Linked DNA regions of Homo sapiens: regions 2 and 3 are each reported to be linked to region 1. The links are microRNA targets in miRTarBase. Many come from high-throughput screens and were not tested one by one. Region 1 holds a microRNA gene; each other region holds the end of a gene's coding sequence.

Region 1 (5,178 bases):
GCACTGAACTAAATGTTTTACAAAGAAAAAGAACCCCATTATTATTATTATCATTCAACATTTGGACAAATGAGTACACAGAGAAATAAAGTTCCTTGCTTAAACTCACACAGCTTGAGAGTGGCAAAACTAGCTCTTGAACCCTGGGAGTCAAGCTCCAGAAACCCTGCTTTTAAACAATGTCATAAGCTGCTGCTGTGGAGCTCTCTTCCTTCTTCTTTTTTTTTTTTCCCAGTAGATCGTAAATTTATTATTTTCTTTTCAGAAAGCAGAATAGAAAACCAGGACTGTAGTAGTACAATTCGAATGTCACCAGATTATTTCTCCAAATATTTGACCCAACTCTCATATAGAGATATGCTTTACAAAGATAGCCTTTACTAGGAAGTCCAATTTTTCTTAAATTTTCACATTACTTTGATAACCATTTAGACTGTGCTAAATATAGATATTCTCACAATTGTGTGATAATTTGAAGTTTGTGAATTTCAGTGCTTGTTATTGTAAAAACAAACAAAACATCCACTTCTTTTCTGAATTGCCACCCTGAACACTTTTTGTCAGTGCTTTTCCCCCCATATTCTTCATCAAATTATTGTAATTTTTTTAAAAAAACTATGTCTTAACTATTCCACCAGTCTGTGAAAACATTTCAGGAAACATAGCACCCAGAATGTAAAGTTATAATATAAATTTGATGAGTGAGTAGATCAATAATTCCTAGTCAAACAATAAATTTTTATATCTATAAAATATTTGCCTCTATATGTCAGAGAAATTTTTAAAAGTGTATACAATGAAATGCATGATAGTTTTTTGAAATATATACTGTAATACTTCCAGAAGTAAAGTATATGTATGTTATTTTATACTGTAATTTTATAGGTAATTATATAATATGGTATAATTATATATTATATATAGTATATACAATATATAAGTATATGTAACTATATATGTATATATTTATATGTAATAGACACACAAACATATATTTTAAATTTAACAAATACTTTTAGTCCAGACACTGTTCCAAGCACTTTACAAAATGTTAACTCATTTGATTTCTAAAATAATCCAATGAAGTAAGAGCCATTATTTTTCTCATTTTAAAATTGAAGGAACAGATACACAGACATCTATATAGCAATTTGTTCAGTCACACATTGGGTAAGCAGGGGAATTTGAACCCAGGCAGTCTAATATTAGAATCACTACTAGTAACTATTACAGAATAATGCATATGAAATTGTTCTTAGTATGGCATCCACAAGCACTAGGCAAGTATATTAGACTGAACCATCCTTTTTACCCATAAAAATGTAATTTCATGTTTCAACCAATATAGTTAAGGGTGGAATTCGACCAAGAAAAGGATAAATAACTTTATTTTCTGTGAATAAGTCACAATAAGGTTGAGAAGAAAATAGACAAGTTATAGGATAGTACATCCTCCTAATGTCACAGTGACAGCTTTGTCTTCAAGAAGCAATGTAAAGAGTGTTTCTTTAGTGTCTTAACTTTCTAATCAATTTAACAATCACAGGATGTGTACTGAGAAGCAGCAGGACTGACCATAATTGATATGTAAATACAGCTGCGGAGATTCAATTGCTAAAGAGTGAAACCCTGCCCTATGATGTTTTACAGTTAAAGACAAATGTGTGATCCACCAGTCTGGGGGTGACTGATCAACTGAAAAGAAATCCCTGAACAAGTAGATATTGCTTTGGTAAGGTACTCTTAATTCAGCAAGAGTTAATACAACAGCACCAAAAGCATTCTGTTTTGGACTTTTTAGGCTGACAACACATTATTTTACTTTGCTTGAATTTTGACACGAGATATATATTTTTATCTAGATGCCAGGCACTGAATCTTTTTTTTTTTCTTTTCAGGTAGATAAATAACTTTTCTCAGAAATGTATTCTAAAGGAGAGAGAAAGCTGGTGTCTGTACTTCTGGAATCAACGTCTGGCTTTTTTAGTTCTTAAAAAATAGTGTGACCTTAATCAAAACATTTCTTTCTATGAGTTAGTGTACTCAATTACATTTATTTACTTGAGTTTTTCATTACAATCTAACTGATCATGTGATTAAGTGATAAGGATATGTCTATGGCTATGATTTGGCTCTATACTAAAGGAGGATGAATAAGGGACTAAGAAAATCTAAGAAGAATATGTATTAGGTTGGTGCAAAAGTAAATGTAATATTTGCCATTACCTTTAAAAGCAGAAACCACAATTACCTTTGCACCAACCTAATAATATCTGCCTCTATATTTCAGAGAAATTCTCAGAAGTATATGAAATAAAACACATAAAATTATTTTTGGAAATATACATTGTAAATATCACAGTATTATAAAACCTAATGTGAGTGCAGTAATAAAAATAAAGTATGCTTATTGAGTATCTACTTTGAGGAAGTCTTTAAGTCTCATCTTGGCTATAAAATGACAATCACTGCAAACTTCTCTTTTATTTTGAAGCACCCAGCATTCTCCTTTTGACCCAATACTATAAGCTAAAGTTTCCAGCAGTGGTACTGTTATGGAACAACAGGGATCGCTGAGATTTAGAATTACTAACATGCATAAATAATTATCAATTTGGTAAGAACAAAGTGATAAGATGAATTTTGCGTAAGAGATTTAAAGTATACTTTGTTAGGGAGTGTGATGAGAAAGATGAACTAGGCAAAATATTTAAAAGTATATCCTTATATACAATATACAATATATACAATATACCAGTCCATAGCCTCTTAGGAACTGAGCCACACAGCGGGAGGTGAGTGTCAGGTAAGCAAGCAAAACTTCATTTATATTTATGGCCACTCCCCATCACTTGCATTAGCACCTGAGCTGTAGCTTTCATCAGAGCAGCAGTGACATCAGATTCTCATAGGCGCATGAATTCTATTGTGAACTGTGCATGCCAGGGATCTAGGCTGCATGCTCTTTATGCCTGATGATCTATCACTGTCTCCAGTCACCCCCACATGGGACCGTCTAGTTGCAGGAAAACAAGCGCAGGGCTCCCACTGATTCTACATTATGGTGAGTTGTATAATTATTTCATTATATATTACAATGTAATAATAATAGAAATAAAGTGCACAATAAATGTAATGCACTTGAGTCATCCGAAAACCATCTCCCACAACCCCCATGGTCCGTGGAAAAATTGTCTTCCATAGAACTGTTCCCTGGTGTCAAAAAGGTTGGGGGACCATTGCTATATAGAAGAAATGCCTAATTATGTACCCTATTACTCTAGACATAGATTAATATATATCCATATATTATTCTATATGTTGACTTATTTATAACCGAGATATGTAAGACACTTTATCACATAAGCTCAAATATATCTATTCAATATAATTTTTCTTAATAAACAAATCTGAGGAAAAACAAAGAAAAAATTAAAGACTCTCAAAGGCAAGCAAGGAATTCAGCTTGTAAGTAGCATGGAGAAAAATAGTATCTGCCAAAGGCTTATAAAACAGTAAAGAAGATTGACTCAGAAAATGAGTCCAGTGTTTAAGCAGCATGAAATGAAAAACAATATACAGTGTACTGTTATAATGTTTTAAAGCATTATGGATTTTATATTGGTGTTCATAGCAACATCTAATCTGCCTTAGAAACTTATTTTGACAGTGTTTTGTACTCAGGATGCATATCAAAGCTTTGCTACCACACTTTGATCAGAATCAGACTCAGGAATAGATATTATCTAACTTCTAACTTAGCATCCTCAATTATCATATTTTATCAGATCTGAACTGTGATGAAGATTTTGGATGATGTGTAATAGGAGCTAAACAATCATGAATTTCACTCACCAAATTCAAAATGTAAACATGGTTGTGTGAAATACAGTCATTGCCATGTATTTGATTGAAATATCTCATTTGACTTTCTGATAATTTGGGATACAATAAAAGTGAATTAGTGGTGACATCTAATATTTTTCTAAGGGAAATATAGCTCTATATGTCTTTCTAAAGAATAAAAATTGTATACTTATTCATTTATGTTTTGAGATGTTTCTTTTTTTGTACACCAGTCAATAGCCAAGTACTGCCTACCATTTGTCAGTTTCATTTTAAGGGAAAGGTAGGTAAGAAATCCTTAAAATTTTCATTCTGAATATCTTTTCCTATACTTTAAAAAATAAGGACCAGCTTATTGTATAGCTTCACTCAACAAAATAGAAGCCAACAGAGCATTACTCTACATTCTCTGAAAACGTAATTTAATTCAGCTTTAGTTTTATGCATTTATCTATGACAAGCAACTAATTAATTATAATATGTGATTCAAATTAAAAGTTATTATCAAAGTTTTGTGGCATAATTCTATAGTAAAGGAAATTGATGTAATTTAGTCCAAATTTATTGCTTCTTGTTTATTCTAAAGATAATTCTGGTATGGGCTTTCTAAATTAAGAAATATCTAGGAAGAAGAAAGTTTTGTCTTTTAAAACATACATCCTTAGTGGTATTCATATCTCCTAAATAGCTTCATAGATAGTAGAAGTTTTATATATAGAACACCTCGTGTTCACACTTGTTAGTAGTCAGAATAAAAAATATTTTAAATAGTGACACCTTATAAAATTAAATATAGTTCTTTCCATATATATGACCTCAAAACCAAACCTATTTGCAAAGTTTCTATGTCATAGTTTCCTTGGTTAGAAGTGAAGGAACAAATTTTGTAAGTAAAATGTAAAGCAATACTGACAATAAATATATATGGTGATTCGCTACTCAGTAAGAAATACCTCAAATTCAAAAAAGTACACTAATGATCACTGTACATTCAGAAACTCAGCCATTAATCCTCTGGCAAATTTTAAGTCTGTGATTCAGAATAATTTCCTTGCAAATATCCAGAGAAACCAACAGTATCTCACAAAGCTTAGTGAACCTCAATTCTGTTAAATGAAGTTTTATTATCTGTTTGCCTTTTTAATGGAGGCAAGACAAGGCATTCAAAAATACACAATATATGAGATCTAAACAATTAGATCCCATTAGAGTATACTTTAGAGTCAGTTTTTAGAGTTTTTGTTTTATTCTTGATTGCTCACACATTTACTTAAAACTCTTAGACTAGTTACGACTATCTTCTTATTCATATGGACCTTACAGGTCAAACAA
Region 2 (5,000 bases), not on the chromosome of region 1:
ACTTGTAAGTTCTATTATAGCTTAAGCCTCTTCTTTGTCTGGTTGTATTCATTAACTCGCACTTTATATACTACCTAAGTAGACCAAGTAAGTGAACGTTTGTATTAAATATAGACATATCTTTACATAAAATTTAGTTTAAGCTGAACTTTTGAAAATTAGAGGACAGTTAACCAACCTATTATTTACAGTTTTTTCATTAAAGCTGACTTTCCAAAAAGGAAAATCCTTAGTTCTTCATTGTACTTACTATTCATGTTAGATTAATTATGCCAGACATAGTCTTGCAATAATAAACAAGCCTTCTGTGGAATTCAGGAATTTTTTTAGGGAAGTAAAAAGTATTGCTATGTGAGCAATACTGTAGCTATTGAATATGTATTACAGTTGATATTTTTCTCTATTATGAAATGAGAGCATTACACCCAGGGAAGTGAGTTAGCCTTTAGGCATAACAGAACACTGAGCATAAGGCTGCTTTCTAAGATGGGTAACTAGCTTTTTAATTCATGCTTTTGCCAAGAACAAATTGATACAAATCACATAATGCTGATTTTTTTTTTAATCCCTATTCTTTTTGAATGTGATTTTCCCTAATAAACTTCATCTACAGCCTTTCTGGCATATCTTTATAATTTGGAACTTAAAGAAATTTATCTTCAGTTGACATGAAGACAAAGAAACTTTATTTTTCCTTAACAATAAAACCTGGCTATAAAAGTGCCAACCAAAAGGAACACAAAAGGAGAGTTTTATAATTCACTTTAAAAGGAGATTTGATGGTAAAGTTTAAAGATTAAAATATTTTGTTCTTCAATTACAGAGCGATGACCCCACAGTATCTGCCTCACGGTGGAAAATACCAAGTTCTTGGAGATTACTCTTTGGCAGTGGTCTTCCCCCTGCACTTTTCTGATCTAATTTCTGTTTTATACCTTATACCCAAAACACTTACTACCAACACAGCTGTTAAACATTCTATACAAAAAAATTGTATGATCTGGTATTAGGAAATTACTTTCACAGTAAATATCAAAGAAAAAAGATTAAGGGTCTCTTTGCCATGCTTTTCATCATATGCACCAAATGTAAATTTTGTACAATAAAATTTTATTTCCTAAGTAATTTTGTCTTAAATGTATTTTTTTTAATTTCAGACTCTCTATTAGCTTCCTAGTTTGTCTCTAATAAATCACCACAAACTTAGTGACTTAAAACACACCAGTTTAATTTTTTCATTAACTAATTAATTAATTTTCATTCTGTATTTTAAGTAAAATGAGACGAGGTCTTGCCATGTTGCCCAGGCTGGTCTCAAACTCCTGGGCTCAGGCAATCCTCCTGCCATGTCCTCCCAAAGTGCTGAGATTACAGGCATTACACCACTATGCCCAGCCACAAATTTGCTTTTAAATTCTGACTTCTGAGTTCTAGGAGTCAGAAATCCAACAGTGGGTCTGACGAGACTAAAATCAGGGTGATCGCAGGGCACTGCTCCTGAGGAAGGCCTTAGGGAGAATTTGTGTTCTGCTGTTTCCAGCTTCTAGAGGCTGCCATATTATTTGGCTCATGGGCCCTTCTATCTTCAAAGCCAGCAGCTTAGCATCTTCAAATCTCTCAGTTATAAAAGGACCCTGTGATTGCATTGGGCCCACCCCAATAATCCAGGATAGTTTCCCCATTTTAGAATAATTTTACTATAAAAGAAATAATAAAAATAGTTATCATTTTCGAGTGCCTGCTGCATACTAGTCACTGTTCACCCCTAGTCTTTGGGATGTACGATTTCACTGTGTTACCTCTGTGCCTTGGCTCTCTCATCTGTAACACAAGGGCTTGTAATATTTAAGGATACAACTACTTCCCAGCACTCCGGAAAGGTTTCCTTTTGATATGTAAATCATGCTGGATTCTGTGGCCTATTTCTGTTTCCCTTTTGGTTAAAATATGAAATGGGGGTTGACATCAGCAAGATGGCAAAATAGGAAGTACCAGTCCTCATTACCCCACAGAGACACCAGTTTAATTTATAGACCAGGATACCAGAAACCAGTTAAGTTGCAGTATCCCCAGGTGAGTGCAAAATTAAGAACAGCCACGTTGAAATGAGTAAGAAGAGTCATTTCACTTTACTCCACCCAGGATGACAGCCCAGCATGATGGCGAGTACGCCAGCTCCTGGCTTTTCCCTGGGTTGAAGGGGGCAGACTCGGTGAGGGGGAGAGAGGTAGAGAACGTTGGAGCATGTGACCAAGATTCTGACTCTTTCGTCTTGTCTGACTTGGAATACTGACAGAACTGGCATCCTTTGGATGTCTGGAGTCTGCTAAAAGCACGGGAGAGTTGGAGGATCGTTTGCCGTGCCACCAGAGCCTGTAGTACCACAGACAGGCCAGTGTGGCTGGACACCACCAAGAGAAATCACCCAACTTGCATTTTCTCTCCCAGGAGGAATGGAACTTACACGCCAGCATTGCAGCTTTTTGTAGTGCTGCCCAAGGGACTGTTGCCCATCTCATCTAACTTGGGGTGCTTATAGGAAGCTGTCATGCTTTGCCAGAGAGCCACTGAGAACAAAGGGGCGACTTGCAGCTGCAGCACTAGGGAACGTGCAATTCTGAAGACAGACACCAGAGGGAGCAAGAGATTACAAGATGAAAAACCAGCAACCTTCAGTTGGGAAATAACACAATCCTAAAAAGTTGAACTTGGAAAAACATTTAAGAGGTTTCAGAATCTCTACCTGGGCTAGCTGGTGAAGGTCTGCCCTGTACAAAGCCAGTATGCAAAGATTGGGAGTGGCCGAGTGTAGTGCCTTACACCTATAACCCCAGCACTTTGGGAGGCTGAGGTGGGAGGATCACCTGAGGTCAGGAGTTCGCGACCAGCCTGACCAATATGGTGAAACCCCATCTCTACTAAAAATACAAAAAAACAAATTAGCCAGACATGGTGGCACACACTTGTAATCCCAGCTATGCGGGAGGCTGAGGCAGGAGAATTGCTCAAACCCAGAAGGCGGCGGTTGCAGTGAGCCAAGATCATGCCACTGCACTCCAACCTGGGCAACAGAGCGAGACTCTGTCCCAAAAAGAAAAAGAAAATATGAGGCTCACTGGCAAACTAAATATAGACAAATGCAGAATCCTTCAGGACTATAATGGTAGTGCACTTTTAATTCTGGTCCAGAATTGACAAGACAAAGCATAAAAATAACTGTAACTGGCCAGGCACGGTGACCCACACATGTCATCCCAGCACTTGGGGAAGATTTCTTGAAGCCAGGAGTTTAAGACCAGCCTGGGCAAAAAAGTGAAGCCCCATCTCTAAAAATCAAAACAAACACTGTAACTATAAAAATATGTTAAAATATCTTAATGGGTACGCACTATGTAAAGGTGTAATTTGTGACATCAATAATTTTTTTTTTAGCTTTTGCACAGCAAAACAAACAGCAGAGTAAGCAGACAACCCACAGAGTGGGAGAAATTTGCAAACTATGCATCCGACAAAGGAATAATATCCAGAATCTATAAGGAACTCAAATGAGCAAGAAAAAAATAATCCCATTACAAAGTGGCAAAGAACATAAATAGACAATTCTCAAAAGAAGATATACAAGCAGCCAACGAACATGAAAAAATGCTCAACATCGCTAATCATCAGGGAGATGTTAAGACCGCAATGAGATATCACCTTACTCCTGCAAGAACGATCATAATTAAAAAGTCAAAAAAACAATAGATGTTGGTGTGAATGTGGTGAAAAGGGAACACTTCTACACTGCTGGTGGGAATGTAAATTAGTACAACCACTATGGGAAACAGTGCGGAGATTCCTTAAAGAACAAAAAGTAGAACACCATCTGATCCAGCAATCCCACTACAGGGTATATACCCAAAGGAAAATAAGTCATTATATGAAAAAGACACATGCACACACGTTTATAGCAGCACAATTCACAATTGCAAAGATATAGAACCAACCTAAGTGACCATCAACCAATGAGTGGATAAAGAAAATGTGGTATATTCATCGTGGAGTACTACTCTTCAGCCATAAAAAGGAATGAAATAATGTCTTTTGCAGCAACTTGGATGGAGCCAGAGGCCATTATTCTAAGTAAAGTAACTCAGAAATGGAAAACCAAATATTGTACCTCTCACAAGTGGGAGCTAAGCTATGAGGGCTCAAAGGCATAAGAATGATATAATGGACTTTAGCAGGCCAGGCACAGTGGCTCACACCTGTAACCCCAGCACTTTGGGATGTCAAGGTGGGTGGATCACTTGAGGCCAGGAGTTCGAGACCAGCCTGGCCAACATGGTGAAACCCTGTCTCTACAAAAAAAAAAAAATACAAAAATTAGCTGGATGTGGCGGCATGTGCTTGTAGTCCCACCTACTAGGGAGGGTGAGGCACAAGAATCACCCAGGAGGTGGAGGTTGCAGTGAGCCAAGATTGCACCACTGCACTCCAGCCTAGGCAACAAAACAAGACTCCATCTCAGGGTAAAAAAAAAAAAAAAGAATGATATAATGGACTTTGAGGACTTAGCCAGGGAGGTTTGGAGGGGGTGAGGAATAAAACACTACATGTTGATTATAACATAGACTGCTTGGGTGATGGGTACACTAAAATCTCAGAAATCACCACTGAAGAACTTATCCAGGTAACCAAAAACCACCTGTACCCCAAAAACCATTGAAATAAAAATTTTAAAAATAATTTTTTTAAGATGAGAGATCTTGCTATGTTGTCCAGGCTGGTTTTGAACTCCTGAGCTCAAGCCATCCTCCCACCTTGGCCTCCAAAAGTGCTGGGGTTACAGGCATGAGCCACTGCACCTGGCCCTACATCAATAATTTAAAAGTAGAGTTGTAAAAGTGGTTTTTGTATATGATTGAGTAAGTTGTTATCAGCTTAAAATAGATTATTACAAGTATAAGATGTCTCATGTAAGTCCCAGGATAACCACAAAGTAAATACCTATATTCTTT
Region 3 (5,000 bases), not on the chromosome of region 1:
ACTGAGGCTGTCGGACTAGGAGGTGGCAGGAGTGTGTCCTGGTATTTACTGTCCCCTTGACTAGACACTGTCCCCTTTTCTCACACCCACAAGCAACCATATGAACGTGCCCACTGTATATTTGTACATATTCCTACAGACAAATGTGATTCCTGGGTTCAGAGAGTGAGAGTTTAGACAGCAAAGGATTCTACATCATCTGAATCCCTGCCTCCTCATCAGGATAGCATAGGCTACTCCTAGTTTTAGTCTATGTATACACAATGTGTTCTTACCAACATGCTGCTGTGGCTTCAAACCTGATGCTGCACTTCAGAAGACCCTTGAGGACAGAGTTATGAGGCGTCAGGGCCCTGGGGGGCAGGCATCTTTCCAGGGGGGGGCATTGTCTGTGCCCTCCACTCCACTCATGTGCGTGGCCCAGTGTGGCCTGGCTCACTTCTGCCTGGTGGTGTATTTGATTGGCACAAGCACCCAGACACCAACTCTACCCTTTCCCTACCCTCATCTTCTGGGTCCTTGAACACATTCTTGTTTCAGGGATGGAGTGACAGCCTCCCCACATATACATGACCCCTCCCCATTCTCCTGAAGGTGGACCCCAGGCTGCTTCCAGTTCCCACTACCAGGGTTACCTGATAGGCTTGTTGCTGTTGTTGTTTGAGGCAGTGGATTTATTGTGCCTTGCTTAAACCACAGTTATCTGGAGCACGGAGTCAGAACAACCACAGAGAACAAACATGTGCTTTGTCTTTTTATTATTCTTTATTGGTCCTACCAATGTGACTCTTTACCCAGGCCCACTGTTCCTATGCGCACTGGCTTTGTAGGCATTCACATCATATGTCTGTGTCCTGAAAATCTCAATTAATTTCTCCTTCCTATTCCTTTTCCATGCTCTGCCTCATTTTCTCAGAAATTGAAGGCATTTGATTATTATTTTTTTGTTTGGGTCTGTGTAAAGGTTCCTTGGCAGGAGAACATGCATATGACTTTAAAATAAAGACCAACATTCTGACACTAAGGTAATGCACAGAAAAAATACAGTACTCAGACATCATTGCAAATAAATACCCCATACAGATGAAGTTATCTCAAATGTAACAATATTTCTTATGAATCAACACTGTAACGGAAGGTAAAAATAGGAGTCCCTACAACTAGGAATAAGAAATGCTTATTCCAGGAAACAGAATTCTTTTATTTTTGTCATTTATATTATTATAATTTTTCCTTTTTTGGAGAAGGAAGGACAGTTTTTCTTCCTCCAAGAGTACCAATTTGACCACTCCCACTAACCTCACTCAGCAAACAAAACAGGATGTAGACCTGGTTTGCTAAGGAGTTTTAATGAGTTCTGTTTCCTGAAATTAACAGTGATTAGTTACACCAAGCAAGAGAAGATATAATGTCTCGCTTTCACATTTGCAAAGAATACTATGGCTAACCCTCATCCCCTACTGCGCATGCCAACACAGCGTCGGCCCTCCTGATACCCTCAGCTCTTCACAAACGTGGCGTTCATACAGCTTGCTCAGCTTGTCCCAGAAGGTCCATTTGGTTCCCAAAGCACACTCAAGGTTTTGTGTTTGCTTTCATTTTCTAAGCCCCTGAATTTGCAAGTAAAGAATCACTGACTAACAGAATTTTGCACAATGACTGTTTTCTTTCCCTCAATGAAGATGCCCAGGTCTGGGTGTGAGGAGCACCTGCCTCACCTGCTGTCCACGCTGGCCTTCAGCATGCCCACTAGCTCTTCCCTGCTCGCTTTTGAGAATGATCTGTGCTGGGACACCTCCCTTAACTGATGAAGGCACTACTGGCAATGATTACTAACAAAAAGGTGTTGAAAGAGAACACCCTAAAAATCGACGACTGTAGAATTTTCTAAGTGTACCACAATTTGGCACAACAACCAGAGTAACAAAACAATTCCAATTTGGAATTTTATTGGTACAGTTGTATAAAATTCTGTTAATCAGTCATGCTTCACAACGTCCTAAAACCCAGAAAATTCTGGAATTTGTAGGTAATACTACTCATTCAATAATTTATCTTTTTTTTTCAAGTGCCTATTACTGTTTTAACCAGAGCAAAGGTCAAGTTTTCTTCTTGTTACATTGAACTATTCCTAAGAATAATAATAATACAATATGAAAAACCCCAGAATCTGAATACCCTGGATTTCTTAATGAACATGGCATTTAAAATCTGTAATTTCAAACATGAACCACAATGCCGTATGATCTAAAGGCTGCTGAACCACAGCGTGGATACACTTAGCTGAGCTCCTCGCTGGGTCAAAGCACTCATCTCCGAGTCTAAAGCTACACGCTATGGAGCACACAGCTCTGCCTCGTGCTGACACCAGACAAACACGGTGGGAGCTGAGGCGGACAGCTACAGGACCACGAGCATAGACCACGGCACCTGAGACCGTCTCTACGCGAGGAATTAAGGAAGCAAATATAATATCAAAATATCAAAAGTGCACAGGTTGATCGGATAAAAAAAGAACATGTGTAACAAGGAGCCCCCGTGGTGGGCGTTTCCAGTGGGCTCCTGGCGAGCCTGGCAGCCAGGGAAGAAGGGTCTTCGGCCCATACAGAGGCCTTTCCACGCAGCAGCTCGCAGCATGCTCAACATTAAAGCTTTTTTTCCTCCCATTAAAAACCTGGGGAATGCTATTTTGAAAAGAATTGCAGTGGCATATCCAAAAAGTTTCTAAGTGGGCTTTTAGGTTGCCCTTCCTTCCTCCTTGTGGGCCACGAGAGGGAAGGGGAAGGGGCTGCAGTGTGACAGGGCCGGGTGGCCAAGTCCTCCTGGCAGCTACTCTACAGCTGAAAACGGGAGAAAAGAGAGCGTTAGAAAGCGGTCATCTGTCGCTTCCTGTTTATCTGACAATTGAAGCTCTCCACGTGCTGGGAGGGCGCGAGCACGTTAGTTGGCAGAAGAGAAGACCTGCATGTGTTAGCAGGGGTCCCAGTGGCTTGGGTGTCTGCAAAGTCCCTTAGGAGTATGGAGAGAAGCTATGTGCCAGGCTTGCAAGGAGAGGGCAAAGCGCATGCAGGGTGGGCATGCCAGCAGCCATCCCACTGCGAGTCTTGCTGGGGCAGGGGGATCTGGGCCCAGGATGAACACGCAGGGGACATACATGGGCGTGTCCTGGAGTCTGGAGGGGACCGAAACATACTCGGCACCAAAGGGAAGAACGCGCAGGGCAGAGAGCTGTGGGAGGGGGCAACACGGTCTCTCACCAGGTAACTCGAATGCCTCTTCCGCATGAGAGACAAGGCAAGCAGCCTGCAGGAGAGAAGACTGCAGCCTCAGGTCCAGCTGGTCCCACAGGGTGATCGGGAAAAAAGTACTGAGAAAAGTTCTGCTCAGAATGTGGGAAGGCAGGTGTGGATGGAGCCTCTGGAAATGGGAGAACCCTACAGCTACCTTTCCTCTTTCTCTGTTGCCATCCCCCAGATTGCACTAAATAAAGAGACCTAAACATCTCCTACCTGTGAATCCTGACAAGTGGCCCTGGCCCTATGCAAAGCTTTCCCAGCACCGGGCTGGGCTCTGGATACACCTGTGGGTGTCCAACCCAGCCAAGCCCTTGGTGGCTCAGACTTCAGGCTAGGGTTTTCAAAGCCCCATGTCTTTGGGACTGAACCCCCTATGGAAGGCCGGATAATTGGCTGCTGGGGTCACCCCAAGTACAAAAGGACGGGCTCTGCACTAAGGACCAAGGTCTGGCCAGGCACTTGGAAAGCTTTTCTCATGAAAAATGAAAACCTGGGGCCTTGGGCCCTGCCAATCTGTCACCTCACAGGCCACTATACAAGCATCCTGATCTCAGAAATGAGAAACCGAGCTCTGGATTCCTGGGTTATGGTCAGCTGTGTCTGTGCCATGTGTGTCTGGCCAGCAGAATACAGGGGCTCAGGGCTGCTCTTCTCTGGGCTTGGGGAAGAAATTCTGCACTTCTTTCCTGAATATGATTTGCAGTCAGATACTGCATAAACTACAACGTACTCCTTTCCATGAAACTATGCCAAGTGCAAAGCCATCCTCTGAGGTCGTACCTATGCTGCAGGCTGGAACCTCCTAAAACTGCTTTCTAGTGCTGACATTAGACACATGCGAGGAACATGCAAGTCTCAACTCAGGTTCTGCCCCTTTTGGGTGCTGAGGGAGCAGGACCAGGACTCCTCCCTTGGGTTTCCCCACGGGTGCGCAGGGCTTAGAAGATGCTTTCATCACACATCTGCTGCAAGAATGTGCAGCTCTATCCCCACCTCTGACCCCCACCTAAGAGAGCAGCTGAGGACTGGGTGCTCCTGAGGGGGCTTTGAGGAGTGAGAAGCGACACAAAGCTCTCACAAGTGTCCTGCTGATGCAACGCCCCATGGCGCCTCGGCTAGACTCCTACCCTCTGTGCATTAGTCACGTTAAGATTGACCTAGCACCGCCGTCCCGCTGCTGCTGGGTTAGTTGAGGTGAAGCAGATGTTAGCTGCAGCGTGCGGCGCCCCACAGCCCCTAATCACAGTAAATGCTGTGCTTCTCGCTGCAGAACACCTGGTTGGCCAGCCCGGTGCCCTCGGCCCTGTCGCTGGCACAGGCACAGGTGTGACTTACGCTCGGTGTGGCTGGCTTGGTCTTCGGGGCGGCTTTGGCACGGCCACGCCGGGTCTGCTCATGGTCCAGCTCGAGCAGCTCCAGCCGCTGGGTCAGCGCCAGCTTCTGCTGGATGGCCATGCGCAGCAGCGAGTTCAGCGTCTTCTTCTCGTCCTCAGCAGCCGCCAGCTGCCGCTGCATCTCATCCAGCTGTGTAATGTACTCGTCACACCTGTGGGTACCAAAAACATGACTGAGGGGCGGGCAGAGCCGAGCAGAGGAGGGCAGGGCAGGGCAGGGCTAAGCTGCACGGCCCTCTGACAGCCCTATACCAGAGCCATCCTTCAATGTGGCCTCTGGACTGGAGGGTGTGGCTGGGGAAGAATTATT

Evidence for each region. The annotated mature microRNA hsa-miR-548ag reads AAAGGUAAUUGUGGUUUCUGC and lies in region 1 at 2,235-2,255, opposite strand. An mRNA with a match to its seed (bases 2 to 7 or 8) in the 3' UTR can be bound and repressed. Matches are read on the target gene's strand: a 7mer-m8 pairs with bases 2 to 8, a 7mer-A1 pairs with bases 2 to 7 and ends in A, and an 8mer does both.
Region 2: miRTarBase lists PSMG2 as a target of hsa-miR-548ag. Seed matches in the 3' UTR shown: 7mer-A1 at 933-939.
Region 3: the mRNA of BICD2 is a reported target of hsa-miR-548ag. Seed matches in the 3' UTR shown: 7mer-m8 at 1,136-1,142 and 8mer at 1,022-1,029.

Annotation. Positions count from the first base shown.
Region 1 is chr4:60,919,700-60,924,877 of GRCh38, reverse strand. It overlaps MIR548AG1 (microRNA 548ag-1), which reads right to left and starts at 2,259; the gene lies at 2,194-2,259.
Region 2 is chr18:12,724,616-12,729,615 of GRCh38, forward strand. PSMG2 (proteasome assembly chaperone 2) reads left to right here. Exons shown (of 7, transcript NM_020232.5): 6 at 1-4; 7 at 824-1,125. The coding sequence ends at 916. Among named protein-coding and RNA genes, the nearest start is that of LINC01882, 22 kb to the right of the region's middle.
Region 3 is chr9:92,710,622-92,715,621 of GRCh38, forward strand. It overlaps BICD2 (BICD cargo adaptor 2), which reads right to left. Exons shown (of 7, transcript NM_001003800.2): 7 at 742-4,842. The coding sequence ends at 4,533. Among named protein-coding and RNA genes, the nearest start is that of IPPK, 43 kb to the left of the region's middle.